2 separate regions of the Homo sapiens genome follow, and region 2 is linked to region 1. Evidence: fine-mapped expression QTL. A gene starts in region 1. The other region holds a variant in brackets. All regions are shown on one strand. Distances are from middle to middle. Region 1 holds the start of ANKRD46 (ankyrin repeat domain 46). Region 2 overlaps ANKRD46 (ankyrin repeat domain 46).

Evidence for each region.
Region 2: its variant is fine-mapped to the expression of ANKRD46 in esophagus muscle (GTEx, PIP above 0.99).

What each region holds. Positions count from the first base shown.
Region 1 is chr8:100,554,946-100,563,282 of GRCh38, reverse strand. It overlaps ANKRD46 (ankyrin repeat domain 46), which reads left to right and starts at 3,524. Exons shown (of 5, transcript NM_001270377.2): 1 at 3,524-3,572. RefSeq lists enhancers at 3,221-3,360, 3,328-3,622 and a silencer at 3,361-3,530.
Region 2 is chr8:100,516,650-100,524,986 of GRCh38, reverse strand. ANKRD46 (ankyrin repeat domain 46) reads left to right here. Exons shown (of 5, transcript NM_001270377.2): 5 at 2,216-4,215. The coding sequence ends at 2,432. Among named protein-coding and RNA genes, the nearest start is that of ANKRD46, 39 kb to the left of the region's middle. The variant T/C (reference allele first, on the strand shown) is at 3,347.

The DNA.
Region 1 (8,337 bases):
CAGTCACCGTGGTGGTGCTAAGGATTCAGTGGTAGAGACACTGCCACAGAAGGTGATAGCTTTCTGCCATCAGGATTCACAGGCCAAACATACCGTCTCCTCTGTCTAGAATACTTCCCTTGTTCATTACATAATTAATTCCTCATGCTTTGCATCTTAGATTAAATATCACTTATTCAAAGACATTGTTGCCCTTCTATCTAAATTAGCTCCCATATTGTTTGCCCTCAAGGAATCCTTTCTCTTTCGCTTCATGACACTTATCTCGGTTGTAATTACAGGTATTCCTCCGCCATTGGAACTCTCACGATCAAAACTCAGGACCAGATAGATTTTAGTAATGAGGAAGAAGAGGCAGACTTACCTGAAGAGTGTAAAGTTTAAGCTTCAGGGCTCTTGTGGTAGGCTGGATAACAGATCCTCAAAGATGTCCACATCCTAATCCTAATCCCCAGAATCTATGAATATGTTGCTTTGCATGGTAAAAAGAACTTTGCAAATGTGATTAAGTGAAAGATCTTGAGATAGGGAGATTATTCTGGATTATCCAAGTGTGCCCAATATAATCACAAGGGTCCTTATAAGGAGACAGGAGAGTCACAGAGGAAATGCAAGGACAGAAGCAGAAGTCAGAGGGGTGTAAAAATGCTCTACACTGCTAGCTTTGAGGATGGAAAAAGGAGCCATGAGCCAGGGACGTAGGTGGCCTCTAGGAGCTGGAGAAGGCATGGCAACCAACTCCCCTGAGAATCTCCAGAAGGAAAGCACTTCCCGCACTTTGATTTTAGCTCAGCGAAACTGATTTTGGACTTCTCACCTCTTGAACTGTAAAATAATCCTTGTTTTAAAGTATTAAATTTAGGGTAATTTGTTACAATGACAATAGGAAACCAATATATAGCCCTCCCTTGTTCAGGCCCCTTCCAAGGCCCTGGGAAGCAGTGCTGATATGGTTATATGTTTTTGTAAAGCTTGCAAAATTAAAATACTTTACCTACAATTGATTAAGATTTCTCTCTTTCCACTGAGACTTCCGGAGTATTCTTCTACTGGCTAACATTGGAGTGACTACAGGCATTTTTGGGATCCAGCTAAACAGAAATGCAGCTGGGGGTACTTTGGTTTGCATTTAATGGGAGACGTTCATGTGGTTCGTGGTCACTTCCATGCACTATTAACTTATTGCTGGAGAGTAGGAATGGCTTCTGCAAATGCTCCTGTATTAGTCCATTCTCACACTGCTATGAAGAAACACCTAAGACTGAGTAATTTATAAGAAAAGACGTGTGATTGACTCACAGTTGAATCACAATTCTGCATGGCTGGGGCAGCCTTAGGAAACTTACAATCATGGCAGAAGGCACTTCTTGACAGGGTGGTAGGAGACAGAATGAGTGCTGAGCAAAAGGAGAAGCCCCTTATAAAACCATCAGATCTCATGAGAACTCACGCGCTCTCATGAGAACAGCATAGGGGAAACTGCCCCCATGATTCAATTATCTTCACCTGGTCCTGCCCTTGACATATGGGTATTATTATAATTCAAGATGAGATTTTGGGCAGGGACACAGCCAAACCATATCAGCTCCTAACAGCCACTGTGTCAAAGTGCCCAGGTGTGGTAACATGAAGGAGCCATAGAATATGTGCAGCATGCAGTTCACTTTAATCTCATCAGAGAAAAAAGCTGTCTTCACCATCCCTACATTTTTTCATATCAATCAAAAGCAGTAATTCATGAAGAGGAAGAGATAAATTTGAATAGAAGTAATGGAGAGGCTCTCAGATTGTTGGATGAGTCAACTAATGAAGAGTAAATCTTATTAATACATTGGGAAAAGCTTTAATTTCCTTGCTAATTTGTCATAGTTTATAGGCATCAGTGAAGATATTATAAACTCAATACACAACCAGAAGGAGGACATCAATAACAAACTGATTAATAAATGTCATCAATTTAACAAGTAATATTGCTGATTAGTCATAGCACAATAAAATGTGAAATGCCCTAAGATCTTATAACTTTTTTTTTTTTGAGATGGAGTCTTGTTCTGTCACCCAGGCTGGAGTGCAGTGGTGAGATCTCGGCTCATTGTGACCTCCGCCTTTTGGGGTTCAAGGATTCTTGTGCCTCAGCCTCCTGAGTAGCTGGGATTACAGGTGTGCAACACCGTGCCTGGCTAATTTTTGTATTTTTGTAGAGCCAAGGTTTCACCATGTTGGTCCGGCTGGTCTCGAACTCCTGACCTCAAGTGATCTGTCCACCCCAGCATCCCAAAGTGCTGGGATTACAGGTGTGAGCCACCGTGCATGGCCAGATCTTATAATTCTTACATGAAAGAAATGTAATAGTGATTTCCTCTAATATGACAATAGTCCTAAACCTTTACATGACACTTTCAAGAACAAATTATTAGATGGTGTAGGTGGTCCTTGAATGAATGAACCATGAGATACCCTAGAGCAGGGGTGTCCAATCTTTTGGCTTCCCTGGGCCACATTGGAAGAAGAATTGTCTTGGGCCACACATAAAATACACTAACACCAGCAATTGTTGATGAGCTAAAAAAAAATTGCAAAAAAAAAAAAACTCATAATGTTTTAAGAGAGTTTATTAATTTGTGTTGGGCTGCATTCTAAACTGTCTTGGCTGCATGCAGCCTGCAGGTGTGGGCCAGGGGTTGGACAAGTTTGCCATAGAGCGTGGCTTGGTTGGATGAGGGTGCTAGAATTCAGAGGACGGTCACTGTGCAGTGAGAGTTGTCTTGGCTGTAGGACTGGAGTTGGTAAAATGAAAAAAAGAAAAAACTAGTTTTGCATGAAAGAATGTTTCCAGCATATGAATGTCCCACCACACTTTTAGTTAGTCTTGGCTGTACATGTTGCAATAAGTCAAGGAACCCTACAAAGTAGGATGGAAGGATTCAAACTGCGAATCGCTTGAACCCGGAAGGCGGAGTTGGAGTTTGCAGTGAGCCGAGGTTGAGCAACTGCACTCCAGCCTGGGCGACAGAGTGAGACTCCGTCTAAAAAAAAAAAAAAAAAAAAAGATTCAAACTGCTTTTGAAAAAAGTAAAAATGCAGGGTTATATTTTAGAAATAGTGCAGCCAATCATTAGTGGCTATTCCTAATATGTCAATTTCGGGTCTATAGAAGACCTACCTAGAGGCCAGCAACTATTAATTGATGCTTATAGCACCTAATGAAACTGCCCTTGCCTTTGAAGCCCCCATTTAGCTAAGGGGATGGGATGTGAATTTAGAATAGGACGTGAAAAGTGCAAAATGCTCCCGGACTCAGATCGGATAAACCTCTTCTAGGCTGTCTTTCTCTTCTGAAGCCACAGTTTTGATGCTTTCCCTAATTCAGAGCAGGCTTTCCCGGAGTCTCTGACTCAGAGCAGCCCGAGCCACCGTGAGGACCGCCCACCTGCAGGGGGCGCGCCGGGGGCTGCAGCGCGAGACCGCTCTGGCCCAGCGGGGACTCCGACTACCCCTGTCTGGCCCCTCCCCTCCGCCCGTCACCGCCTCCTTGAAGCTGCCGCTGTCGCTGCTGCTCGTTCGAGTCGCAGGTACTTGGCCCGGGGCCTGTGGGCAGCGCCTGGGCTAGAGCCACTTGATATCTCCTGCACCGTCCCTGTAGCACTGGAGGTCCAGTAGGCCTGGCCGGGGCCCTGAGGGGCGAGGGTGCCCGGGCTTCCCACACCTTCCGCGGCGACTGGAGGGAGCCGGGCCGAGGAAGCGACCGCGGGTCCGTGATGGCTTCTTCGCGGTCTGTGTGTTCACGAGGGCCGGGCAGAGGCCTGCGAGGGTTCTCGTTTGCGCTTGCGGGTTAGGGCTGTGGTCCGGGGAACCCCTGGGCAGCGCGGGCAGCCCTGGCTCGCGGTTAATCGGGGGGTGGAGCGCGGAAGCCACGCCGCAGGTCCAGCTGCTCGGCCGGGGCGAGACGGTGCTTTCGCGGCGTGTGCTTGCAGGAGCGCACAGTTCAGGCGCCGGGACAAGCTGTTGGGGTGTGAGTGAGCTCTCCAGAATGGCACATGGCTCCGGGGTGCCCGGGTTAAAAGGAAGGATTTGCACACCTTCCACTTAGGGCTCGGGTAATCGCAAACTTCCTCCCTTAATTGGCTTGCAGTGCTAAAAAGCAGATCGTTCTCTCTGAGGTTTTCCCAACAGTACCTCAAGAAAATAACATCTGTTTTTTGTAACGTTCCACGGTATTCGGAATTGGCTACAGAACATAATAAGGTAAAAATATGCCATTGAATAGTAGCGCTTCTCAATCTTTAAAAAATGACGGTGGTACCTAGGAGCCTCTTAAAGAGCTGTAATATGAGTGGTGTGGGGATTATTTTTATGTTCTAGTAATAGCTATTTTCAGTGCTTATTTTATGTCAGACACGGTGCCATTGCTTTAAATACCTGGTACCTTTAATCCTTGAAGCAACCCTATCAGGTACCATTTCCATTATACAGATAAGGAAACTGAGGCACCGAGAGTCTGACTTCTCCAAGGTCAGAAAGCTAGCAAAGGCTGAGCGAGATTTGGTCTCATCTCCCTTACTTCAGTATCCCTGCGTCTGTTATCTAGCCAAACATGTAGCGCTGTCTAAGAGTTTTATCAATTAGATTTGTAGCCTGAACTGATTTCTCTCAGGCTTAGTTTTCATGGTTATATGCAGGAGTCCTACATGAACTCCTTTTTAGTTTAAAAGGAGTTTAGTAAGAAAACTGTTAGCTCATTAAGGACTATAGTGATAATAAAGTTAAACTTGGACTGGGGTTCTCACTGTGCCAGTACAATTTGATTTGAAATAGAGATGAATTTGTTTGGTTGTTAACACACTTTATTACATTTCTTCATTATTTATGTTTCCATACCATTTTTTAGTGAGTTCACTTTGCCTTTGCATTATTATGGTAGCAGTACCAGAGGGAAATCAAAGATTTTTTGATGATAGTAAGTTAATATTTTACAGAATACAGGAAAGGCACTGGAGAGAGGATGTGAAGTGATAAGGAATTTTTGGCATGTTATATAAATTGTGTTACTATGGAAAACAAAGGATTCTCACAGTTCTTTATCAAAAGGGAAATTGTATTTCCCATTGTGGAAATAAGTTGGGCTTTATAGTCCCAAACTTCTTAGCCTTACCTATTATAGATTTAAGAATTTGCATATTCGGCATTCATATAGCAAGCGTATATTGAGTGCCTTCTATGGCCAGGCTCTGTTCTAAGCACTGGGGGATGTGAGAGTGAACAAAATGAAGTCCTTGTCTTCCAGGAGCTAACATGTCACTGGAGGAAGGTGGGGTTGGGGACGATAAGCGGGATTTGTGAAAGTTAACGTATCTGGAGTCAGATGGTAACAGTTACTAGGAATAAAAATAAAGTAGCAAAGGGGGATAGGAAGCACCAAGGAAGGAACAGGTGCAGTTTTAAAATAAGGACTGGTGCCATGGAAAAGACTCAAGCAAAACTGAAGGCGTTGGGGACCGCCATGCAGCTGTCTAGGGAAAGAGCATACCAAGCAAGGGCAAAAGCCCAGAACCCTTCAGTCTTGTTAGAGGGACAGCAAGAGAGGAACAGCAAGGAGGCCAGTAGATTTGAGCACCTGGAGGGAAGGAGGGTGAGACAAGGTCAGAGAGCTAATGGGCCCAGGTAAGGACTTTTGCTTTTACTCTGAGTGAGAAGGGAGGTGTTTGGAGGGTTTTGAGCAGAGGAATGAGGGGATCTGGCTTAAGGTTTTTAAAGGATCACTCTGGCTGCTGTGTTCAGTGTTGACTGTAAGGGCAAGGATGGAAGCAGGGAGACCTGTTAGGTTGATGCAGTAATTGAAGCCAGAGAGAATGGTGGCTTAGACCAGGTGGGTAGTAAGAGAGGCAGTAAGAAGCCGTCGTATTCTGAGTATTGCTGATAGGATTTGCTTATGGTTTGGATGTGCTTATGAGAGAAAGGGTGAAGCACGACCCTGTGGCCTTTGGCCTGAGCTATTGGAAGGCTTTAGTTAAACAGTGTACTGAGATGGAGAAGACTGAGTGTGAAGGTAGGTGGAGCCAGTTTTAGTCAGGTTTGAGATGCCTGTTCAAGTGGGGTTATAGAGACGGGAGTTGAAGAGAAAGGTCCAACTGGAAATAGAAATTTGGGAAGTCACTAATGCAAGCTTGTGCAACCCAAATTTGTAAACTTACTTAAAACATTATGAGATTGATTGTATTTTTTTTTAAGCTCATCAGCTATCGTTATATGTGTGCCCCAAGACAGTTATTCCACTGTGGCCCAGGAAAGCCAAAAGATTGGCTACCCCTGCACAGAAGGGTAGTATTTAAAGCCATGAGCCTATGAGATCTAGTGTAAGGAAATGAGAATTGAGCTCTAGGGCTTTCCACATTCAGATATTGGAGAGATGAATAATTACAAAGGAGAGGCTTTTGAAGGTAGGAGGAAAAAGAAGCGAGTATGGAGTACTGAAGGCCAAGTAAAGAGTTTTTCAGGGAGAAAGTGACCAACTGTGTCTCCTCCTGCTGATTGACAAGTCAAGTAAGATGAAGACTAGGAGATGACCATTGGATTTAGTAATAGGAAGGTCCTTGGTGACCTTGCAAGAGCACTTTCAGGAGAATAGTGAGGAAGAAAACCTGATTGGTGTGGTTTCAAGAGACAACAGGAGGAAGAGCATTGGAGACTGCAGTATGGACAGCTCTTTGGAAGAGGTTAGCTGTAAATTTTTCATATGTCGGTTATTTGAAAGCACTGTAGTCGTTCCCATAGTAAATTTTTATTTCCAGCTTAAGCTACTGATTAATACCTACTACACTTGGATTGTTTTAATCAATGACTGGTGGAAATAAAATAGCTATCCTACTGCTGATCATAATAATAATGTATACTTAACTTTCTAAACCAATAAAGCGTGTCCTTTTTACGTAGTACATTTCAGAGCCCATAAAAATGCTTGGGTGGGCTGGGCGAAGTGGCTCATGCCTGTAATCCCAACACTTTGGGAGGCCGAGACTGGAGGATCTGTTGAGCTCAGGAGTTCAAGACCAGCCTGGACAACATAGGGAGAGCTCATCTCTACAAAAAACTTTAAAATTAGTTGGGCGTGCTAGCACACACCTGTGGTCCCAGCTACTTGGAAGGCTGAGGTGGAAGCATCTCATGGGCCTGGGAGATTGAGGCTTCAGTGAGCCATGATTGAGCCACTGCATAGTTTCAAATGTAGTAGGTGTATAAAAAGAATGCAATTTTTATCTTAAGGCATGAGTTCAGGTTCTTGTTTCTGCCCTCAGCAAGTTAATGTCCAAACCCAAATACAAAATAATCAAGGTACGCAGTAAAATACCAGATTTACACCATCCTGACTGGATAAATGTGCCTTTTCCATAGCAAATACAGCCATCTGTTGCATTGTAGATGTAAAATGATTAAAATATTTCAAAGTTTAGGGTTATAGCTACTGATTTTTTAAATCCAATAATTTTATCTAAAAGATAACAGGTCCTTTAGATGTGGAAATCTTTTTTTTTTTTTTTTTTTTTTTTTTTTTTTTTTTTTTTTAGCTGAGGAAAATATTAAGTTGGTGCCTTTTGTTTTGCTCTTGTTTTTTTCTCCAGGAATTTTTCATTGGTTGGCTCTCCTTTCTTGTTCTCATTGCTGTCATCTCACACATCCTTTCTAACTTTTTTCTTTTGCATAGCTTCTTAAGTTAGGCCCTTCCATCACTGATTTCCTTACTGCTTATAATTTGGATTTTAAATTTCTATTGTGTTTTTATTTAACTTATAGTCTTTTTTTTTTTAGTCCCAGTCCTCTTTAATACTGTTTTTTCCCCCACCCTGAGTTCTTAATTTTTTGTATGTCCCTGAGAGCACAGTATTTTTCTGGATTTTTTTCATTTTCTTATTGTAAGTAATTCTCAGTGGTGTGCTTTTCTTCATGTAGATCTAGTGCACCTCTTTGCTTCTGGTGTAGAATTTTTTCACTGACTCCATGTTGACTTTCTTTTGGTTTTTTTTTTATCCTTTAAAAATGAAAGAACTTCTGAGACTATAATATTGAATTTGTCATACTAGTACCATTCTACTGAAGGTTTTTTCTAGATTTCCTATAAGGAAAATAATTAGAGAACTGGGTTTTGTCTAGGCATTCTATAAAAGACACTATTGTGATGTTTGTAAAAGATTTCTATTTAAAATAACTTTCAGTACTATTAGAACTTAAGTTTATGGTTATGTCTCTGTGATAAGTACTTTTTTTTTTTTTTTGGAGATGGAGTCTCACTCTATCACCCAGGCTGGAGTGCAGTGGCACAATCTTGGCTCACTGCATCAAACG
Region 2 (8,337 bases), 38 kb after region 1:
ACAAAAACAGTATAGCTATCACATTTTTTAAAAAAGATACATGCAAACACACCCCCCAAAGACAGTGTAGATATCACGTTTTTAAAAAAAGATTATACACACACCCCATTATGTTAGAATCAGATATTCCCTGGACAGTAGAAAGCATTTCATTGGATAAAGTCTTTATAGAATATCCCGATTGGCAGAGCTTCATGAGCTCTGAAGAACAATGAGAATGCTCATGGAATTTTCATTTTATACCTAACATGTATAAGGGCATGTCAACTCGTAATCAATAAATTTTACATAGGTCAAACTAAGCCTCTGCAGAACTGTGTTATCTATTTGTGGTTTTACTCTTTTAGGCCTTCTCAAAGTTCTAATCTTATTTTTAAACTTGCTGTCAAGTGTTCCAAAATTACTGTGGTGTTGTAGATTCCCACTGAAAACATCATCTCTTATTCAGAGAATAAACATGTTTTAATTATTAAAAAAAAAAAAGTTTGGGTGTTAAGCAGACTGGCCCATTAGGAAGTCAGTTTCCCATGATCAGAGAAGACCTCTAATGTTGGTAAAGGCTGAAGGACTTTTGTTTGATGGTATCAAGAAGTAAAATAAAGTTGTAGGTTAAAAAATGTCAGTTTTGCATGTTTATTCATAGTTCATAATGAATGAGACTCTAAGATACTGTTTTATGGGAGTTAGGAAGGATAGTAATGAACTTTGATAACCAGTAGATAGTTGATTCCTATGATCATGGTTATGGTGGCTTTAATCTAAATGATACCCTCTTATTGGGCCTGTATGTTGTGATATAACCATGAGTGCTCTTCCCTTAGTGCTTCCAAGTACCAAAGTCAGATGCAGTTTCTCTTTGTGGTAGTCGTATTTCTCATTGATAAAGTTCTGAAAACCAGAATCAGTGTTTTTATGGTATTTGCACTACCTTATTTTCAACTAGACTAGCCTTTATGCAGAAGAGAAATGAACATATTCTGTCTTACTGTACAAGATAGAACTAACACCAATAGGAAGAAACTATTAAGAATTCCTAATGACTAGGCCAGCTGTGGTGGCTCATGCCTGTAATCCCAGCACTTTGGGAGGTCAAGGCAGGTGGATCACCTAAACTCAGGAGTTCAAGACCAGCCTGGGCAACATGGCGAAACCCTGTCTCTACCAAAAATACAAAAATTAGCCAGCCATGGTGGCATGCACCTGTAGTCCCAGCTACCTGGGGGGCTGAGGCAGGAGGATTGCTTGAGCTGGGGAGGTGGAGGTTTCAGTGAGCTGAGATCGCATCACTGTATTCCAGCCTGGGCGGCAGAGTGAGATTCTGTCTCCAAAAAAAAAAAAGAATTTCTGATGACTAGACGAGTCCACATGTACAACAGGCTGAGGAGTAACCTTCCATTATTAGAGAATTACAATTAAAGAAGGAATTCCTTCATTGGTCAGATTATTGAACTAAATTAATAAAAATTCCCTTTTAACTTCAAGATTCACACACACTGTATAAGTGACTTTTTAGATTTACTCATCTTCCCCCCTCCCCCCAACAGACATTTACTTTCTCAGTTCTAGGGCCTAGAAGTCTGAGATCAAGGTGTCACAAAGTTGGTTTCTTCTAAGGCCTCTCTGCTTGACTTGTAGATGACTGTCCTCTTCAGGTGTCATCACCTGCATGTCTGCTTATTCGTATTAACACATTCTTAAATTATGAGTCTGCACTTTGAATCTTCTAAATTTAACATAACAAGAATGTGTTGTGGTTTAATATCTTGATGGAGACAACTCATAACCTATTTCAAGACTTCTGCTCAGGACACCTTAAAAAAAAATAGAGATGGTGTCTCGCTATGTTACCCAGGCTGGTCCCGAACTCCTGGGCTCAAGTGATCCTCCCTCCTTGGCCTGCAAAAGTGTCGGGATTACAGGCATGAGCTACCACGCCCAGCCAGGACCTTTTAAATAGAATTTTTAACTTGAGTTTACTAAATTCTAAACCAAGAGAAACATACTCATTACCATTTAGCAATTTACAGTTTAGTATATATTGTTCAGATACGTAAGCATGTAAGAGTGTGTATATATATATATGTGTGTGTGTGTGTGTGTGTGTGTGTGTGTGTGTGTGTGTATTTGGTCTTTTCTAAATAGTAGCCCTGTGGTTTTATGTTTTTGGAATTGCTGTGTTTTTTTAATGCCCTTTTTGCTCTTTCTTCTTCCACAGTGCCATGGAAAGCCATTCACTCCTCAATCCCAACCTGCAGCAAGGTGAAGGAGTCCTCTCCAGCTTCCGAACCACGTGGCAGGAGTTTGTGGAGGATCTGGGCTTCTGGAGAGTATTGCTGTTGATCTTCGTCATTGCTTTGCTGTCTCTTGGCATTGCTTATTATGTGAGTGGGGTGCTACCCTTCGTGGAAAACCAGCCTGAACTGGTGCATTAAAGGAGCTCATGGAAGATGAGGCAATTAATTGCCTGTTTCCTGGCTTCCAATGTTTGTTCTCAGTTTCTCAGAATTTTTCTTAGCGCAAAGCAGTGAGGGCAGTACATGTTCTTTTTGCATTTTTAATTATTGTAATCCTTTTAGATAATGATGTGTTCATTTGAACTAACTACATACTATGATCAAGTATATTGCATCCTAACGCTACCTCTGACTCAACCTGACTTTGTAGGAAAGCCTACACGTAGCCTTGTTTGATAAAAACACGGAAGTGACTAGAGAATGGAAGATAAAGGAAGAAGCTAGGAAGTCCTTGCTATCAAAACCTTATCCTAATATAGGACCAATTGAAGTATTCAAAAAGAAAAACAGTATCTTATATGATTAGTTTTTGTTGGTGGTTTTGTTTTCATTTATTTTTGCAAGAGCCACTTTTTATTTACTTTCTCTAGGGATAAGAGATAAAACTTGAAGTACTTTTTTCAAATCTTGTGTGCAAATTAGTATTGTTAGCATCTATTTGGCTTATTTTAGTATTTTTAAGTCTAGTCACAAACCAAACAAAACTTTTGAAAATGAGCTATATTTTGTTCAAAGATAATTGATTTGATCTTATATTTATTTGTTTTTAGGATAATTTTTGATCTTTTTGTAAACTGCTTTGCTTGTTAATATCTGTGAAAAATAAATGAGTTCATTTTGTTCACTTTCCAATTTTCCCGAGTATCCTAGTCATCAAAGATAACAGTTCATCAGAATTACAGTCAGAAAATCCTTTTTCTACTGAATAGTTAGCAGGGAAAAATAATTCTGATATTTAACTGTCATAATTCTGTAGTGCTATTATAGTGAAAAACTCAGTTCTATAAGCTAGCTGTGTTGTCACAGTTTTATCATAGTTCATAATTATTTCA[T/C]GTGCAATCCTATTTGGAGGCCCTGTTAGACTTTTAACAATCCCATCCATATCTGTAATTCTCTGATGGCAAGAATGGATGGAGCATTTCTGAGTTAACAGTGCTGGACAGTATCGTACTGGGTGTCATAAACTCTTTATGAATGGTAATATTATGTAAATTGAAATCTGGCCCTCAAACTATATTGCAGCTTTCAGCAGTATGTTTGAAGGCCTCTTTTGTTAATGATTCTGTAATGTATGAATTATGTTCTTGAGTGGTTAAAAAAGAATATGAAGGCTTGATAATTATTTATTGGGTAAAGTCAGGAAATTGTAGTGAAAGAACTAATGGTTTTGTTTTTTGGAATAAAGGCACCTAAGCTATTGCTAATTGAATTGCTGCTAGAATTAGAAATTATGCTTTAGAATAGAATTGGTATTTCTGTGATTCTTTTTGCTTCTTGGTATTTTCTCTTGTATCTATGTATCTAGTATTGAGGCTTGCTCTTTCATGTGGCTTTATCCTCTCTTTAATAGCTGTTGTAAAATTCCTGAGTAACTGGCTGCTTCAGGATCAGCTTGCAGAGTCTTGCTTTTAGGTTAGATACAAACAAAGTAAATCATAGTTGGTGTAAATCCAGCAAAAAACAGCTGGCTTTGGAATGGAGAACACTACAATTCAAATTTGAAGTATATTCAGAAGAAAACTTTGGAATTAGCTTTACATTTGTTTGTAAATCTAAACAAATATGCAAAATTGGTCAAAATGTAAGTATATAGCATTTTTAAAGATTAATGGTTCCTTTTATGTGCTGATTTCTTTGTATTCTGTTCTCTGCATTCATCATTCAGGAATACCACCAATAAATGTATTTATATATCCCTTAATCACGATTTCTCTTTTTTTTTTTTTTTTTTAGTGTATTATAGTTTTAATTTGGGGATTTTGTAATGGATTGCAATTAGCTGCTTTTTAAAACACAGCTTTTTTTCAAACCTAATGTATTAGGTATATTGAGTTTCATATATGTTTGCCTTATAAATACTGTGAAATTAATTTGAGTGAATTGCTCGTAGATTTAAGGGTGATGATCATAACTACCACAATTAAGCCCCTCCCAATTATGCAAGTTTTTAGCATGCAAGTTTTACCCTACGCCCCCTTGAGCACTACATGACCCCAGTTTATAAGATGAGAAAATGGACACAGGGATGGCTAAGTAACTTGTCCAAGGTCAAACAGGTAGGACCTGGTGGAAGAGGGATTCCAGATTGAGGCTCCAGCCCCAATTATGCTTGTGCTTTCCTCCTGTCCCGCTGTCTTTCATGAATCTGGAAATGGAACCATATTTATCCAGAACCTCGCCTGATACCATTTCAGCAGGACATTACTAAATTTTCCACTCGTGGTCCTATATACTTACTTTTTTTCCTTTCTTACACATCTTCCCAGTGGTAGAAGCTTTAATATTCAAGCTCCAACCCTGGCTTGTCAGAAAGTCTTCCATAGTTAACCGTACTTGACTGCCTCCTTCCCAACCCCTCCTTTCCCCACCACTTACCACACTCAGTTTTATTACTTGTATTTTGCATTCCTTGATCCGTTTCTCTGTAAACATGATTTTCTTTCTAACTTGTTTAATTGTAAGCTTCATGAGAGCAGGGACTTAGTCTATTTTTATAACCCCATCTGTCTACAGAGCATCCTGTAGAGCTCTTGGTACACAAATACTTATAGCATTGCTTTTATACCTGTAGCTATATTTTTTCTTTTCAGGTTGAATAGCTCTTTGCCTTTTATGCATCCCCCGCAACAAGCTGCAGGTGTGAGCTGTGCTTGGTCCTCCTTCCACAGTGCGCCTGTAGCTTCATGAACGAACTATACAGGCTGGCAGTGTGGAGCCCCCTCACCTGTGGAGCATGCAGGCTTCCGATCAGCAGCACCTGCCACAGGTTTACCACTTCGTGTAGAAGCCCAGGAACAATATTCACCTGCCACTGCTGCTGTTTTGGTTTCTATGTTTTTATTTCAAAACCAGGCCTCAGTCTTTGACTTGTGAAATTGTTTATGCATGTATCAAAGTGCTTTCAGCTGCAGGAACCAAAATCCGAATTCAAAACGGCTTACCCCATAGGAAATGTATTTGTTTATGTAACTGAAAGTCCAGTTACATAAAGCCCGTTTACATAAAAAGGTAGGGTTGACCCCAAGGGTGACATCATCCAGAATCTTTAGCCCAGTTCCCTTGTGCTCTTGCCCTGCCCTCCTTGTTGGCTGCTTCCTCCAGCTGGTTCTGCAATGAGTACAGAATTTTTAGACATCACATCCATTTATCACCACATAGAGAAGAGACCGTCTTTCCTGTGACTCCCTCGTAGGAAACTTTGATGCAAACAAGCTGTTTCATTGGCTGACATGATATCATGTACCCCATTCTCAAACCAACCAGTACCCTTACACAGGTTGACTTAGGCCTGGATTGATGAACCAGTCATTGGCAGGGGTGGGGTTGGTAGAATTCATATGTTGAGCTTGGACTAATGGTTTTAGAAGTGATTAGGGCCACTCCTGGCAATCAGTGGGCAGGGACCATAGTTGTTTTACATCCCACAGTGCATGGGACAGTTTAGTCTAACAAAGGATTGTTCTAAATCCCACATGATTCTTGAATGTTCTGCTGGACATTCGTGTGTTTAGAAAACAAACAATTTTAGATATCTGAACCTAAAACCCAACCATTTCACATTTTAAAACAAGGTATTATTTGGTATAGTTTTATTTTTTTATTTTATTTATTTTTTTTTTTTGAGACAGAGTCTCGCTCTGTCGCCCAGGCTGGAGTGCAGTGGTGCAATCTTGGCTCACTGCAAGCTCTGCCTCCCGGGTTCACGCCATTCTCCTGCCTCAGCCTCCTGAGTAGCTGGGATTACAGGGGCGTGCCACCACGCCCAGCTAATTTTTTGTATTTTTTAGCAGAGACGGGGTTTCACCATGTTAGCCAGGATGGTCTCGATCTCCTGACCTCGTGATCCACCCGCCTCGGCCTCCCAAAGTGCTGGGATTACAGGCGTGAGCCACCCCACCCGGCCTGGTATATAGTTTTAATGTATCATGAATTTTCCAAGAATACAACCACGAGATAATTAAGGGAAGATTCGACTTCATTTTGTTCAAAACTTTATCAAGAATTGCACCGCTTTTCAAAAATCTTGTTATTGACAGCAGTGCTACTTATAATTAAGTCATCAACATAATTCTATTACAGATAGTAATGACTTCGTTGTTTCTTCTAATGTAGCTGGGCCTGAGCATTTACATATTGAAATATACATTTTATTATAAATTTCTTTCCCTTTATTTTGTGTTTCTATTACATAATTTATGTGAAATCATTTTATTGATTTTGACAGTTGTTAACTCCTACTTATCTGGGAGCCATTCTATAGCTTAGCTTATTTAATCTTTTTTAAGACAGAGTCTCACTCTTTCACCCAGGCTGGAGTGCAGTGGTGTGACCTAGGCTCACTACAACCTCCGCCTTCCAGGTTCAAGCTATTCTCCTGTCTCAGCCTCCCTAGGAGCTGGGATTACAGGTGTGCACTACCATGCCTGGCTAATTTTTGTATTTTTAGTAGAGATGGGTTTTCGTCATGTTGGCCAGGCTGTTCTTGAACTTCTGACCTCAAGTGATCTGCCTGCCTCGGCCTCCCAAAGTGCTGGGATTACAGGCGTGAGCCACTGCGCCCAGCCTTATGTAGTCATCTTGATGTACCTTTTCCAAATAGTTTATCTTGGAGTGAACACCAGGAAGTAGCTTTTCCCAAAGTTAATAGAACATTTGGGGAAAATGAGGCCAGTATCTGATTAAAACACCTTTAAAATTGTTCAGGCCGAAGCAATTCCAGCTGTGCTAAAATAGAACTTTGGGATGAGGTTAATTCCTTTGTGCTCCAAGTAGATTCAAAACAATTTTCTAAGGGGGGATCTTGGCCTTGGCTCCCCTCAAAGCACACATAGGCTGGCATTCTGTTCAGCCACTCATTCTTGACTTTTCACAGCACAACCAGACTGCTCCATAGCCAGAGGCATAGGTGTCTACATTCACCTGGGGACAGAGATTTGGCCACACTCCTTAGATGTCAAGGACTACAATCTGGAGTTCCTTGCTACCCAACACTCATTAAAAGCTTAGCTGATAACAGTATTTAGAGAATATTGCTTGGAGGATGTTTTAGAGCAGCACTGTCCAATCAAACTTGGCAACGTTGAAAATTTTCTATATGCTGTCCAATGCAGTAGCCACTTGCCACCTGTGGCTGTTTAAATTACATTAGAAATTCATTTCTTTATTAGCCACATTTCTGGTACTCTTGGGCAGCAAAGGTAAAGAAGATTCCATTTTTACAGGAAGTTCTTTGGGACCACACTGTTGTAGAAACCGCCTTGAGTTCAAGTCAGGTCAGTGGAGAGCTGGGTACTTGAACTGTGCTAATAGTAGTGCCCAGCCCAACTGCTTTTACTGAGCTCTTCATTAATAAGTGGTAATGCTATACTTATTAACTCAATCTTCACAAATGCTATTATTGTCCCCACCTCACCATTAGAGAAACTAAGGCATTTGAGGCAGGGTTGAATAGCATGCCCAAGGTAACACGGCCAGTAAGCGGCAGAGCTGGGATTTGAACTCAGGCAGTATGGGACCGGGGTCTCTTGTCACCATCCTGCTGTGATGCCTGTCTACTTAGTTGTGATGCAATTGTCTTGAAGTGAAAATTGTCTTCTGTGGATTTAACCATTGGATCTATAAAGGAAAGCTACTGAGGATGCTGTTGGCACCATTCTTTATGAAGACCCCTGACAAGGAACTTTTGTTTCTTAACACGCACAACTGTATTTCTGCTGAGCAGTTACTTTACTTTCAATTTATGTTCTCTAGGAGTTGCGTAATTGATCAGGTAGAATTCATCTTTCACACTGGATGCTGAAAAGCTTAATGCTAAATTTGGGTT